Linked DNA regions of Homo sapiens. The gene in region 3 interacts genetically with the main gene of each other region. Each region holds a gene or a part of one and is shown on either strand. Other genes may lie near its edges.

Region 1 (4,107 bases), on a different chromosome or scaffold from region 3:
CTGACACATAAACCCTGGAATAATTCTGTGAAAGCAGGAACCCTTATAACCAAATCCTTTCTCTCCAGTGCTCAGAGCACGAAAATTTTCTGTTTAAAAAAAAATTAAACACATATATACATACATAAAAATATATATATACACACACACACACAAACTGTCACAATTGGAACATCTTTGTTAAACTTAGAAAATGGACCAACCTGCTGTCTTTGGGACCTTGTCTGCAAACAGCTGTAAGAGAAAATTACAGTTAATTAACATCTGCTTATTTTGTTGCTTAGTACCCATGTCTTTAGGGGCTTCTGAGTCATAAATTCATTTTCTCACTAGAATACTTCTTCAGTAATTACTTTAATTCCCAAGAACTGCTCCTGACAGCCATAAGGCCCTGCAGGCAGTTGGGTTAAGAAACATGAAACCCAAAGACATGCCAAAAATCCAATACTAGTCATAACTTAAATAGTGAGACTTCTAGAAAGTGTCTCAAACTTTTAGTACATCACACCTACTTCTGAAAAGATATATGGCTTCTTAAATGTCTATCACCACCCCCCAACTTGAGCTAGAACTTACAAGGCAAAATTCTAAGGAACAGCAAGCACTGCTGCACGATCAGGGGTAAACAGCTGTTCTTTTAGTCACTTGTAATGAAAATGCTACTACCTCCAATCTGTTAACATAGCTTTATGGATTAGATGAGCAGTCACTTCTTGGTATCCAGGCCCCTTACCTAGTAGTGGGGTAAAAAATAAAGATTGGTTTCTAGTATATCTGGTTTTGAACCTTTCTTGAATGTATAATACGTTATGGCTAGAGAGGTAGCTTAAATACCATAAACATTTACAAGCCCTTTCATAAAAACAGCTTGTTTAAAAGTAGCATTTTATAAGCTATTTCACAGATGTGACTGAATTAACTACTAGTATCCGTGTGCACTTCTCTTATAGCAATGTACTTTTTTTTTTTTGAGACAAGAGTCTCACTGTCACCAGGCTGGAGTGCAGTGGCACGATCTCGGCTCACTGCAGCCTCCGCCTCCGGGGTTCAAGCGATTCTCCTGCCTCAGCCTCTAGAGTAGCTGAGATTACAGGCAAGCGCCACCACGCCCAGCTAATTTTTGTATTTTTAATAGAGGTGGGGTTTCACCATGTTGGCCAGGACGGTCTCAATCTCCTGACTTCGTGATCCGCCCGCCTGGCCAACGTACTTATTTTTTAGTTTTTAGGTATTTGTACCTAGAATGTATGGTCTTTCTAAAACATCAGCTTTTCTCAGAGCTTTATAGTCGGTACGTTTAAGTTCCTATGGCTTCCCTTTCAGACTTTCGCTAAAGCCAAAGCCCTCATTGGCAGTTACCCCTCCATTCTCATCAAGACCTGCAAGTCCTTTCTCATTTCCCTGAAGCTCTTTGGGTAACCTGATGCCCAACATTAGGTCAGGCCAAGTTTCCACGAAAGCCCTTGTCACTTACCAGCTTTGACTACACTCATAGGTGGGGTGGGGTGTGGATTAACATGCAGTGTTTCAGTGCCTATGTGCCAGGCACTATGGACAGGGTAGGCAACAAGGAAATCGCTCTGTCCTCACGAAGACTGCATGAGGATCAATCTATTTTCGGAATAAGATCCCAAACTAGCCATTGGTGGCCTTTTGAGATGTGATTTAAAGGAATAAAACCACTAACATCCTATTTCGCTACTCCCTAAGGTCTATCCATGTTAACTGGAACGGAATCGTACTCAATATTTAACTTTGAAGACACGCGCCAAGTTTAGATACTATGCTATAATTACAACTGATCTTTAAGAACTCATTTAACGCTCTCAAAACTAATTAGGTAATCACTGGTAATCCACCTTGGTCGGAAGAGGCCTGCCTTGTGGCCAGTCGCAACTTGCTTGCTAGGCAGAGGGACAATCGGGAGGGGCTCAAGAGCGCCTCCCCCGCCAGCGCCGTCACTGCAGTGGAAGGCGGTCCTTGGGCACCAGCAAAGGCAAGGCCCATTTTCACATTTCCGCTTGGGGGTGGGGGACACGGAGGGACGTTTGGGGCACATGTATAAATATTCCTACTTTATCCAAATGGAAGATATTTCAAGTGGCAACCCGTCACATCCCAGCAAGTCTCCTTTTATAACATGGCCTCCCGGGATCTACAGGACCGAGCATGGACGGGCTCACACCGCGCCTCGATCCTTGAGAAAAACCCTCAAGCAAACAGCTTCCCAGCTCAGGATGTAAAGCACCCATGCCTGCCAGGGGACAGCTTCCCAGGAAGGCGGTCGCAAGCCCCCGCGAGCGTGCTTCTGGCTCCGGTCTGCGGCGCCCAGGCCAAGCTAGGGCGGAGCCCAACGACTCTCAAGGCGCGGACCTGAGCGCGGCCGCCGAGCACGTGCGTCGGACAGGACAGGGCGCGGCCACATGAGGCGGGCGGGCGGACGCGGGCCCCCTCCCCCAACGGCCTCGCAGCCGCCCCGCCTGCCTTTGTCCGCCGCCGTCCCGGCCTCCTCCCCGCGACTCGCGGACCTCCCAAAATGGCCCCTCGTCAGGAAATGGCGCCGCAGCCCGCCCGCGCTCGCCCCTCAAGCAGGGTCGCCCCGCGCCCGGGCCTTTGGGGCGCTACCACCCACCCCGACCCCGGCCCACTTTCTGGGCCCCATTCCCGCACGCCGCCGCCCGCCCGACCTCAAAGGAGACGCGGCCCAAGGGCTCGCCGTCGACGGCAATGTCGAAGAACACGGTGGGGTTGACCATGGCTAATAGTACACGGTTTTCCTCGGCGGTGGCGTCTGCAAAACGGCACGAGCCTGGCCTCCCGCCCCTTTTATACCACGTTCGGCCCCGCCCGCAACCCGGTCTCGCGCCTCCGTCCCGGCCAATCGGGTCTGCGACTTCGCCAGAGTGACAGTGCATCTGGCCTATAGACGGAAGCCGGCGCTGATGGGGACGACACATGAGGCGCGCGTGCGCGCTAACGCGCGGAGGCAGGTTCCCGCCTGCGGGCTCCGTCGCGGTGGCTGCGGCATGGGACTCGGGGCGGGGCGGCAGTACGGGACGCGGGGCACGGGGGAGGGTCAGTGCGGAACGGGGGTGGGCAGCATGGCGCGCGCACGCGGGAGACGGAAGCGCGGCGGCTCTTCGGCCGTTGTCAAGCGATGAGGCGCGTCTCCCCATTGCACAGAGGGGGCAACTGAGGCGAACGCAGGCCTCAAGGTCGCGCCGCCAGTCAAGGTCGACTGGGGTCCCGCGCCCGGACCCTACGCCTCCGCGAGCGGAAATGGGGATGGCGCGTCCCCGAGACCTAGGAGCAGCCTTGCGTCCGCATTCCGCGCGGGCAAACACCACGTCGCGTCCTACCAGGCAATGTCAGGAAGGAGGTTGCCTTTGAGCATCGCTGTTTTCTCTAACGAGGTGGGACAGGAGCAGTCTCCGGTTTTGAGAGATTATGAAATGCTTTCAAAATGCTCTACTTTCCGAAAATATCTTACACTCTGCTTGAATCTTCTTCAGGAGGAAGCCATTAAAACAGGAGCCTGGCCAGGCTCTTACCTGTGAAGATGCATTATGCACATTTTGCCCTCTTACTCTTTTTGAATCTCTGCTCCTGGTCTTTCCCTGCCCCCGCCCCGCCCAGCTCCTACCGCCCCCGCCTCGGGGCTGAATTGTGCTTTGATTTTTGGGTGAAAGATAAGTCACAATTTAAAAGCGAATTTCTTCAGGCAAAGACATTAATAATACTTTAATTAAAATGCACTTGTAGGCCAGGCGCGGTGGCTCATACCTGGCGCTTTAGGAGGCGCGGAGGCCAAGGCCGGGGAGGATCGCTTCATCTTAGGAGTTCGACACCGGCCACCAGCCTGGGCATCTTAGAGAGACGCCGTCTCTACAAAAAAATAAATAAAAATAAAAATTAGCTGGGCGTCGAGGCGCTCGCTACTCAGGAGGCTGGGCGGGGAGGATTGCTTGAGCCCGGAGGTCGAGGCTGTAGTGGGCGGTGATCGCATCACTGCATTCCAGCCGGGACGACAGAGTGTGACCCTCTCTCAAAAAATAGGCCGGGTGCGGTGGATCACGCCTGTAATTCCAGCACTTTGGGAGGCCGAGG
Region 2 (3,500 bases), on a different chromosome or scaffold from region 3:
AAGCTCCACCTCCCGGATTCACGCCTTTCTCCTGCGTCAGCTTCCCGAGTAGCTGAGACTACAGGTGCCTGCCACCACGCCCGGCTAATTTTTTTGTATTTTTAGTAGATGGGGTTTCGCCGTGTTAGCCAGGATGGTCCTGACCTCATGATCCGCCTACCTTGGCCTCCCAGAGTGCCGGGATCACAGGCTTGAGCCACCATACCCGGCCCCGATCCCATTCTTAATCATACTATTTGAGAATCACTGATCTAGGAGGACAGTGGTCTTAATAAAATACTTTAAGAGTTGATAAATGGTATCACATTAAAGTTATTATACATTTTCAAAAACAGATCCTTGTGGTGGGCCTGTTCCATTTATCACTAAATGGGTGAATTATTGTTATGAGGGCTGTGGCCTTAATTTTTCAGGATCTAGACTATGAATGGGTATGTCAAGCTAAAAAGTAGTCTAGATATGGTGGCCTCAGAGGGATCTTTATCTTCATTAAACTATCTATGGCTATGATTTCCAATAGGACTTCTTAAGACCGACTTAGAGATAATGTGGAAGAATGGTGTCTGGAAGCTCAGTATCCTTCGTATCGTTTTGATGTAGGATTAACAGTATATATCCTGTAGGTAGAGATACTAGTTCTCAGAACTTTCTATAACTAAGGAATAGTAATAAGGCCAAGGTATTTTGTGATGATCTGGACACAGAGGGCCTAACAAGTCAGAGAGGTTTCTATAAACATCAATGTAAACCACAATGATCACTCATGCTTGAAAGAAATGCAGATTCAAGACCTAGATGCTAGGATGATTCAACATTTGTAAATCTTATTCTGTTTTTAATATGAGAGCCTCAGAGACATAAACATAACACTAATGACATTTCTTTTTTGAGAGAAGGTCTCAACTCTATTGCCCAGGCTGGAGTGCAGTGGCGCAATCATAGCTCACTGCCGAGGTATAATCGCAACTCACTGCAGCCTTGACCATTCAGGCTCAAGTGATCCTCCTCAACTTCAGTCTGAGTAGCTGGGACCACAGGCGTGCACCACTATGCCCAACTAATTGTTTCATTTTTAATTTCTTGTAGAGATATGGGGGCCTCATTGCCCAGGCTGGTCTTGAACTCCTGGATTCAAGTGATCCTCCTGCCTCGGCCTCCCAGTGTAGGGATTACAGGTGTGACCCACAGCTCCCGGCCAATGACATTTTTGTTACACAACTTTCAAACCTCCTTTTCTAAGGCACCTCACCATGTCTTAATTCCTTCAGCAGCTCCTCTTGAAGCTGGAGCAAAAAGTTATAATTTTCTTGAACTTCTTGAGAAGGATCAACCATCAAAGTGCGAACAAGGTTGGAGCAGTAAGACTTGAAGCGAATACCCATGGCACAAGTGATAGCCCCAAAGTGCATATGATTCTTGTCACTAGAGACCAACAAAGAAAGAAAACATTTCATTACCAAAACTAGCAAAGTCCTTGGTATCAATGGGACACGGTATCAATAATCATTACTTTTCCCTGCCATATCCCAAAGCTGTGGCTGAATAAGGACCTAAACTTTTTTGTGTTTTGTTTTAAATAAACTAACCAGTTTATAAAGGCTCTGGAGTAAAAGTCAGTGACCAAAACTTTTAGGATAAAAATTCAGTGAGTAAGTGAGTACTGGATTACAAAAATGCAAATGATATCCTGAATTGTATCCATTATAGTCTAATTGTGGGGTTGTGAGGAGTCACTTATCCATTAGTCCTCTATGAATTGTGAGTTGTAATTAGTCTTAAGTTAAATGAGCCAGACATAAAAGGACAAATACTGAATGTTCTCACTTATATGTGGGAACTAAAAAATTGGATTACATGGAGATAGGGAAAAAATAGATAACAGAGACTGGTAAGGGTAAGTGTGTAGGGGGGCAGGCGAGGATGAAAAGAAGTGGGTTAAAAGGTACAAACATAAAGTAAGATAGAAGGAATAAATTCAATGTTTGACAGCAGAGTAGGGTGACTATACTTAACAAAAATGTATTGCACCTGGGTGATGGACACCCAAGATAATGACTTGGTAACACTATACATTATATACTTGTAGCCAAATTTCAGTGTACCCCACAAATTTGTACAGATTTAACAAAAAGAAAAAATAGGCTAAAGTCAAAATGCTATATTATGAAGTCTTCATATACTTACCTCACCACACTGAACTTGAGATTATAGTTGCCACCACTCTGAATGATAGGAGGGTAACACATTTCCACAGTAGAAGGGTCTGCCCCAGCAAGGTATTTTTTCTCTTCAATGGCCTTTTCCACAGACTCAGCCAGTTTGCTGTGTCGAACTTTCTGTAAGAGCATCCAGAAATAAAGTAACACTTACTAGAGGGTAGCAAAGCGGGGTGTGTGGACACTATGATTTGAAGACAAAATGTATCCTTGTATAAGTCTTAGGAAATGATTTATGCGCCAGGTAATATATTGGTATGCAGGCAAAACACATTTGGAGAACAATATGTAGGACTTACAGCTATTCCTATGATTCTCAAGTAAAATAATGGGTTACCTCAAGAAAACATAACGCAGGCTTACCATTATTTTGAAAGGGAGATGATGTAATTACCACCAACTTAAGTGTCAGTCTTAATTTCAAAGGAAGCTGAAGAACACACCAACAGATTTGCATGGTAGACTTATTACTGCTTCATTAAAACAGTAAAAAGACCCTCTCATCTCCATTTACCTCATCTGCATCAACTATTTCCATGACTCTTTCCTTGAAGAATTTGTTGAAGACTTCAGAAGTGATGCTGGCTGCTTTCTTCATTAGGTTGAGCTCCCCATCCTCCTTTACAGCGATGGTATATGCCACAACTGCACTGATATCTATCTGCAGTCAAAGTGACAAGAGTTTCTAACATGCAAGTACAGAATTACAAAATAAATGCATCTCTCCAATTTGAATATTACCAGTGATATTTCTGTTATTTAGCAAACTATCACTGGTTTGCAGAATATTCAAACATTCTCTTCTTGAACTGAATAAACATTTGAAATAGCTCTTTGCCAGGTCATTGTGTGTACTACAAGAGGTGTTAAGCTAATGTACCACTTAAAATGTAAACTGCCCTCTAGACGTTTTTTGTAAAGGCAGATAGAAGAAAGGCAGGGAAAAAAAATAAAACTGGCACACTGCTCAGCCAAAGGGGATAAAATGTAAACAAACATACAGTTTTCCCAAAACAAACGTCCTGCACTATCTGTTATGGAAGCCCATCACATTTCTGTCTTCTCAACTCTTGATTTGCTATTTCCAGTAGTATTCTTACTTTGTCAAAGCCTTCTTTGTTGAGGCAGTCATTCCAGCTCTTCATGAACTCTCCAGGGAATTTGTCTTTGCTGAACACTCCAATCTTCTTGCCATTCTTGCTTTCTTTAATGGCTTCAATCATTTTGTCAAAGCTACTCTTATTACTTTCATTCTGTCAGTGTCATAGGGAAGAAAAGACACAT
Region 3 (3,500 bases):
TGTCTTAAAGACTTTTCTACATGATCCTCTTGTGGAATGGAGTAAACCAGTGAAAGGGCATTCCAAAGCGCCACTGAATGAAACTGGAGAAGTTGTCAATGAAAAGGTTAGTAGAAGGTATAGCTTGATATGGGCTGTAGTCCTCATCTCTACAAATGAACTTGATATGCAGCTATAGTTCTCATCTCTATGCATGAGAACTGCTTGGAAATACTGTTAGTGACTATTGATTACTCTGAAATCTAGTTCTCTAGTATCACAATGCCATAAGTTTTCTTTATTGTCAGTAATGTTAACAGTATTCGCATTTGTATAATAAAAGTTCATGGCACACTTGTTTAACCATAGACAATTCACAGTTATGAGATACAGTAGGAAAAACTATAGTACAAATTGCCTGAACTTACAGAACAACAGGTCTGAGCTTTAATATCATGATACCAGTATGTCACAAGCTATGTTAACAAATGCAGCAATTCACTTCTTACTTAGTTGAAGCTGCAAAGTTTGCAGATAGTTTTGTTGTTGTTGTTGTGGTGGTGGTGGTGGTTGTTGTTTTTGAGACAGAGTCTCGCTCTGTCATCCAGGCTGGAGTACAGTGGCACGATCTTGGCTCACGGCAACCTCTGCCTCCTGGGTTCAAGCAGTTCTCCTGCCTTAGCCTCCCAAGTAGCTGGGATTATAAGCGTGCACCACCACAGCTGGCTAATTATTATATTTTTAGTAGAGATGGGTTTCACCATGTTGGCCAGGCTGGTCTTGAACCCCTGGCTTCAAGTGATCCACCCACCTCAGCATCCCAAAATGCAGGGATTATAGGCATAAGCCACTGTGCCTAGCTCAGATAGTTGTTTTTAATAAGTTAGAATAGATTGAGGATTCGTTTTTTTTGGTGGGGGGCACTCTTACATCTTTAATAAGTCTTGTACAGGCTTACTAAATACAATGAATTATACCAACTATATGCTAATAAAGATTAAAAATTTACATTCCAGTTAACTACCTAAAGAGTTTAAGTCCACTTTCATCCTACTGATATAGCTCGAGGAAGGCTAGACCTGTACGCCCCCATCCTTCATGTCATCCTTAACCCTTTGTCTTGAGAAAGAAGGTTTAGCTGCTTCTTTAGTTCTTCTAAAAGAACTAAAAGAAAAATTTCTTTTTCTTGCTCTATTATCTTCATCTGTAGGGTGAGATTAATATTTCCAGAATTGTGGAAAAATTCACTCTGTAGCAGTTGAAGAGCAGATGGTCTCTGGGACATGTTCCTTTTCGTTAAGTGATAGATATACTTGGCTTGTACTGGATACCTTTTACTGAGGGATTCCAATATCTGACCAGTTCTTGAACCTGTTAAAACTTCTGCTCGCTCCATTTCTGTTCTAAACAGCTGAAAGAGCTCTAGCAGGATCACACTCAAGCTATATACATATCTAACTGGACAAAGCCAGCCCTGGTCTCTACAAATAGTTTTTGTTTTTTTTTAATTAGCTGGGCTCAGTGGCACACTCCTGTAGTCCCAGCTACTTGGGAGGCTGAGGTGGGAGGATCACTTGACCCCAGGAGTTGGAGGCTGCTGTGAGCTATGATGACACCACTGCACTCCAGCCTGGGCAACAGAGTGAGACCCTTGGCATCATACTCAGATCCTTCCAACTGCTGGGATGAAGCATACAGACAAGTGCCCACTCTGGATATAGGTGTTGGTGTTCTCTTTCTGTTTCTATGGGTCCAGTCTGTGTTCTTTTGTAAGATGTCTGGGCAAGCCAGACCAAAGTCTCCTATTTTTACTTGCTGATCAGGGCCATGAAGAAAAATATTTCTAGGCTTCAGATCTCTGTTTACAATACCCATGTTATGTATGTAAAACACACCTTCCACTAAATCTTGAAAATTTTTTGTTGCAACACTGGCCATAAGGACAGGCAAACTTGCCCACACACTCTTGGCCCTGTTTGTTTCTCTCAGCTAGCCAGTCCCACAGCTGGAGCTTGCACACCTGCATCTGGATGTGCAGCATCAGGTGGTACTGCACCTCGATCCCCAACAAGTTGAAGTTTTCTTTGGAAGATTCCTCAGTGGATGTGAAATTCTCCTCTAGGAGGGAATTACACCTGAGCAGCAGGGGCTGTTTCACAATTGACCAGGTAGACAAACCAGCCAGGCCATTTTCCTGGAGCTCCAGGGATGATTCATATTCACTGGTGTCTCTTAAGACGGAATTGATGGTGTAGTTCACAGCTTGTTGTTCTGATTTTGAGTGTCAGATTCTGCAAAGGGTTTTTCTTTTCTGAGGTGAGCTCCGCGAAGATAATGGGTGAGCTGCTATTTTCACCATTTTTAACACCGTATTGGTATCTGTCTGCTTGGTCGGAGAACACTTCCAGAAATGGCAACTGAACGGAAGCTCTGTCTGCTTGTGGTTGGACCACTTGAACATGTTCTGTCCACGCAGTGTGATAACGAATGATATTAGGGTGCTGAAGACCTGCCAGCACCTTCATTCCCCGTAGTTCTTTCATGTAATGTGTTTTTGTTGCACCCTTAATCAGGATTTTTTAAATTGCATAATACTGACCATCTAATTTATTCCTGACCTTGTATACTCTTCCATATCCACCTTTTCCTAAGATGGCAAGTTCTTCAAATTCATTTAAGTAACGTGAAGTTTGTGCTTCAAAGGGTACTTCCCTTGATCTGATTTTCTGGATATGAGAAATAGCCTCACAAGGATCCTGATGAACTCTCTCTTTAGTGGACCTCATTAAGTGAGTAATAGCTCTGTGGTGATGTAGTCTCAATGAGCTAAACTTGTCACAAGTGAAAGAAGACAGCAGCCCCATTTTGATAAAGGTCTGGCAAAGTAACTTAAACACTGTCTTGAATGAACTGGGTTTGGTTCACGCACATGGCTCAAGTGCTTCACCAAAGAAATAAGCGGCAGCTGGTTTGCAACTGCAAAAGGGAAAGTTGGCTGTTGTAGGGGTTATTTTAATACCTGGAGTTCTGCTGGAACATAAGTCATATTTGGAGTCCAGGCTCTTGGCGGAAAAGTCGATGGCAGATGGCACAGCAACAGTCTCCACCCCGTGGCCCTCCTCTTTGTGCTCGTGGGCTGCAGCGCAGCCCACCAGCCCACCCAGCACCACCTCTGAGAATTATTCTTCTAATAACGTTATTCTTCCTTTTGCATTCAGATATGCTTAAGAAATTGTACAGTTCCAAGTAGCTCACTTAGAACACCCATTTGCATGTACTAACATAATGTAAATATTAGGCAGTACAGCATTGTTATTTGAATATTCATTGAAATGTTTAAGTCCTAAACACTTCCAAAGCAGATTTAAAAAATTATTTTTCTAGAATTGTAATGTGTAAATAATTCCCTGGTATTTCACGTAGTCCAGAAACATGTCCAAGCAGTTGATGTTGAATCAATCTTGCGAGCCTCCAAATCAGTATCACAAGCTAACTGTATTTGTTTAATTTCTTCTTTTCCT
Region 4 (3,500 bases), on a different chromosome or scaffold from region 3:
ACCAGAACTGAGGTTCTATTACTCATAACCCAATGTCAACTCCTCTGTTTCATATATAAGGGACTGAGGCCCAGGGAGAAACTGATTTAGCCCAAATCACACAGCTTATCACTCACGGCAGAGGCAGAGCAGGCCACAGGACTCCAGACCCTGCTTCAATCCTCTGCAGTCCACAACAACCGCCCTCTCACGTGCTCCCCAATTTCACAGCCTGACAGTCAGGACTTTGCCAGCCAAGGCCCTTGTTCTCCATTCTCCTTCCCACACAATCACAAGCCTGCCTGGAGGCAGGTCCCATGGCCACCAGCCCTGCCCCTGGACGTACCACATCCCTCTCCTCATTGTGCTCATCCTTGACGATGAAGATCATGTCGAAGCGCGACAAGATGGTGGGCATGAAGTCAATGTTGTCCTCCCCCTTCGTCTCATCCCAGCGGCCGAACACTGAGTTGGCAGCAGCCAGGACGGAGCAGCGGGAGTTCAGGGTGGTGGTGATCCCAGCCTAACAGGCGACAGACGACGAAAAGGGGGAGGAGATGGCAAAGATGCCTTCTTATATACACGTTTACACACACACACACACACACACACACACACACACACACACACACACACACACACACACACAGATTCTAGGCCTGGGCAAAGAGAACTTGGTCCCAATCAGGGCAGCCTGAGGACGGTTGGGCCACGCTGGGCTGCTGCAGGCTGGGCTCTCCATGGAGGGCCACTCACCTTGGCGATAGAGATGGTCTGCTGCTCCATGGCTTCGTGGATTGCCACACGGTCATCTTCTCGCATCTAAGTGGGGAAGAGAGAAATATCATCAGACCTACTGAAGTGAGGGAGCAGGGAGCAGTAGAAACAGGAAAACTAACAGCAGCCCTCACTCCTGAATACCAGCTCCACGCAAGGCCAATGGCAGCAACCAGGTCACCTCTAATCATGGGAACAACTGTGTGGGCTTGCCTTTCTTCTCCCCACTCTTCAGATATGGGAACTGAGGCTTGAAGAGGTTAAGCAGCTTCCCACAGTTACTAGAGTGACCGGCCCAGGGATTGAAAACATGTCTCCCAAGTCAGAGGTGATTTCTGCTGGCTGAGCACAGGAAGTCACATACCCTGGTGCCACCCACCTTTTGGCTACTACCCACCTCATCAGACTCACCTTGTCAAACTCGTCAATACAGACGACCCCACCATCGGCCAGGACCATGGCTCCGCCCTCCATGATGAAATTCCGGGACGAAGGGTCCCTCATCACCGAGGCTGTCAGTCCAGCTGCGCTGCTGCCTTTCCCAGACGTGTATACCTGGGGCAGTGGGGTGGTGTCAGGGCCCAATAACAACTCCATGCTTTGACCCCCATAAGACAAAAAGACCCACTGAGGTTGTGATTTGCCCAAGGTCACACATCAAAGCTGGCTGCAGGGTACAGAATAGGACTCAAGGCTCCAACTCAGTGCGTCTCCCTCTGGAAGGGGATGCTGCCCTGGGCCTCGGTGTGCCCAGATGTTCTCCCCGCTGAGGGCATCACATCCATGGCTCACCTAAGCCTCACCACAGCCCTGTGACACAGTCTTGTGAGGCCCAACTCACAGATGAGCAAACTGAGGCCCAGAGAAGAGGAGTTAGCCTCAGGGCTAGGATGAGGACTCCTGACTCCCAGGGAAAGCCTGCCCCCATCGTGAGTCCCTTGTCGTCTCTATATAGACCTACACGCCACATACTGCCATAGAGCCCCTGAAATTGGGAAAGTCCTAACTGAGATGTCCTTAATCGTGCAAAATACGCACGATTTCAAAGACTCAGAGCTCCTAAGAATGTAAAGTATCTCAATAATCTACATATCAAACAACATGTTGAAATGAGATTTTAGATATAGCGAGTTAAACAGAAGTAACTTCACCTGTTTTTCCTTTTTTCTTTCCCCTTCTTCCTTTTAAATTGAAACGGGGTCTTGCTATGTTGCCCAAGCTGGTCTCAAACTCCTGGGCTCAAGTGATCCTCCCACCTCAGCCTCCCAAGTAGCTGGGACTACAGGTATGCACACAACCGCACCCAGCTACTTTTTAATGTGGCTGTTAGACAATCTGAGAAGACATACATGGGTCGCATGTGCAGTTCACTATTTCTACTGGACAGTGCCAGTGTGGCAAATTTGGCACACTTCCTATCTATCCAAAGACCACCATCTCGCCCTATACAACCCCGCCACTCGGATCATGTCAGACCTTCTCTGGCTCTGATCCCCGCAGACCCATTCAACAACGCAGCAGAGGACCCAGCTCATCAGACACTTGGGTTCAATCACATCCTGCTCTAATGCTTACCAGCAGTGAGACCTGGGCCAAGACACTTACCCATTCTGTACCTGAGTTTTCTCACCCCTAACACAGGGGTAATAGTACCTGCCACACAGTTGAGGTGAAGACTAAGTAAATATATGCAAAGTACTTCAAGCAGTGTCTGGCCCTTCATTTTAGCTATTATTATTATTATTATTATTTATTATTATTATTTGAAACATGGTCTCACTCTGTCACCCAGGCTGGAGTGCAGTGGCACAATCTTGGCTCACTGCAACCTCCCCGTTCTGGGCTTAAGTGATCCTCCCACCTCAGCCTCCCAAGCAGCTGGGACCACAGGTGCATATCACGCCTGGCTAGTTATTTTGTATTTTTGGTAAAGACAGGGTTTCACCATGTTGTCCAGGCTGGTCTCAAACTCCTGAGCTCAAGCAATCCGCCCACCTCGGCCTCCCAAAGCGCTGGTATTACAGGGATGAACCACCATGCCCAGCCAGATTTTAGCTATTAATGATAACAATATCATTATTTAGCAAATGGATAAACTGACGCTCAGGGAGATTGGGTGACTTACTCAAAGCCCACAGCCAATTTCTGGCCAGGGTGAGACCCAAACCCCATCCTGACTCTCAGTACAGTGTACTCGCCCCCTGCCCCAAACCTACATACACCTGTTGGCTCCCTTCTTCCTCCCATCTCCTCGGCCATCCTGACCGCAGCCAAGAGAAAGGAGGAAGAGATTCCGGGTGAGCCAGCCCACCACAGGTGTCCTGAGGACCCAGAGGCCCTGCCCTGCAGCCTTCCTCCCTGCAAGCCAAGGTGGCAAAGGTATCCCAGGCCACTCACCCCAATGGGAGAACACTTCTCCACAAACTTCAGAAGCTGGGACTTGGCTGTCCCAGGGTCCCCTAGCATCAGCAGGTTGATGTCTCCTCGGCGAGTAAGTCCATCAGGGAGCCTGGGGGACGAAGGGTAGATGGACAAGGTGAGAATCCATGAGGGCATCGCATGTGACATCCAGTCACCAGATTGGTGGGCTGGCAGTTGACTCCCCCAACTATCATGGGCCTCAGAGTTGGTAAGAAGGTAGTGGCTGTGGCCTGAGACCCATGTTCCTACCCAGCTCTGTAGTTCCCAAACCATGGTAGGTCTTGCCTAGCAATGAGGACAGAGCTTGCCTCCCAGAAGAGGAG

The links. A genetic interaction does not mean that the proteins touch.
Region 1: changes in ATR (region 3) and PPIA are lethal when combined (synthetic lethality), as found in Homo sapiens cells (one large-scale study listed by BioGRID).
Region 2: changes in ATR (region 3) and SUPT16H are lethal when combined (synthetic lethality), as found in Homo sapiens cells (one large-scale study listed by BioGRID).
Region 4: changes in ATR (region 3) and MCM5 are lethal when combined (synthetic lethality), as found in Homo sapiens cells (one large-scale study listed by BioGRID).

What each region holds. Positions count from the first base shown.
Region 1 is NC_000007.14:44,795,374-44,799,480, reverse strand, and holds the start of PPIA (peptidyl-prolyl cis-trans isomerase A), read right to left. Parts: upstream 2,801-4,107; 5' UTR 2,757-2,800; coding exon 2,688-2,756; intron 2,363-2,687; exon of another isoform or gene 1,860-2,362; intron 734-1,859; exon of another isoform or gene 577-733; intron 235-576; coding exon 204-234; intron 90-203; coding exon 1-89. UniProt on the Homo sapiens protein: Catalyzes the cis-trans isomerization of proline imidic peptide bonds in oligopeptides.
Region 2 is NC_000014.9:21,367,020-21,370,519, forward strand, and holds part of SUPT16H (FACT complex subunit SPT16), read right to left. Parts: intron 3,470-3,500; coding exon 3,317-3,469; intron 2,878-3,316; coding exon 2,731-2,877; intron 2,337-2,730; coding exon 2,185-2,336; intron 1,423-2,184; coding exon 1,250-1,422; intron 1-1,249. UniProt on the Homo sapiens protein: Component of the FACT complex, a general chromatin factor that acts to reorganize nucleosomes. The FACT complex is involved in multiple processes that require DNA as a template such as mRNA elongation, DNA replication and DNA repair.
Region 3 is NC_000003.12:142,449,734-142,453,233, reverse strand, and holds part of ATR (serine/threonine-protein kinase ATR), read left to right. Parts: coding exon 1-106; coding exon of another isoform or gene 107-178; exon of another isoform or gene 179-2,631; coding exon of another isoform or gene 2,632-2,661; exon of another isoform or gene 2,662-2,675; intron 2,676-3,500. UniProt on the Homo sapiens protein: Serine/threonine protein kinase which activates checkpoint signaling upon genotoxic stresses such as ionizing radiation (IR), ultraviolet light (UV), or DNA replication stalling, thereby acting as a DNA damage sensor.
Region 4 is NC_000022.11:35,413,640-35,417,139, reverse strand, and holds part of MCM5 (DNA replication licensing factor MCM5), read right to left. Parts: intron 3,266-3,500; coding exon 3,154-3,265; intron 1,312-3,153; coding exon 1,168-1,311; intron 802-1,167; coding exon 736-801; intron 503-735; coding exon 326-502; intron 1-325. UniProt on the Homo sapiens protein: Acts as a component of the MCM2-7 complex (MCM complex) which is the replicative helicase essential for 'once per cell cycle' DNA replication initiation and elongation in eukaryotic cells.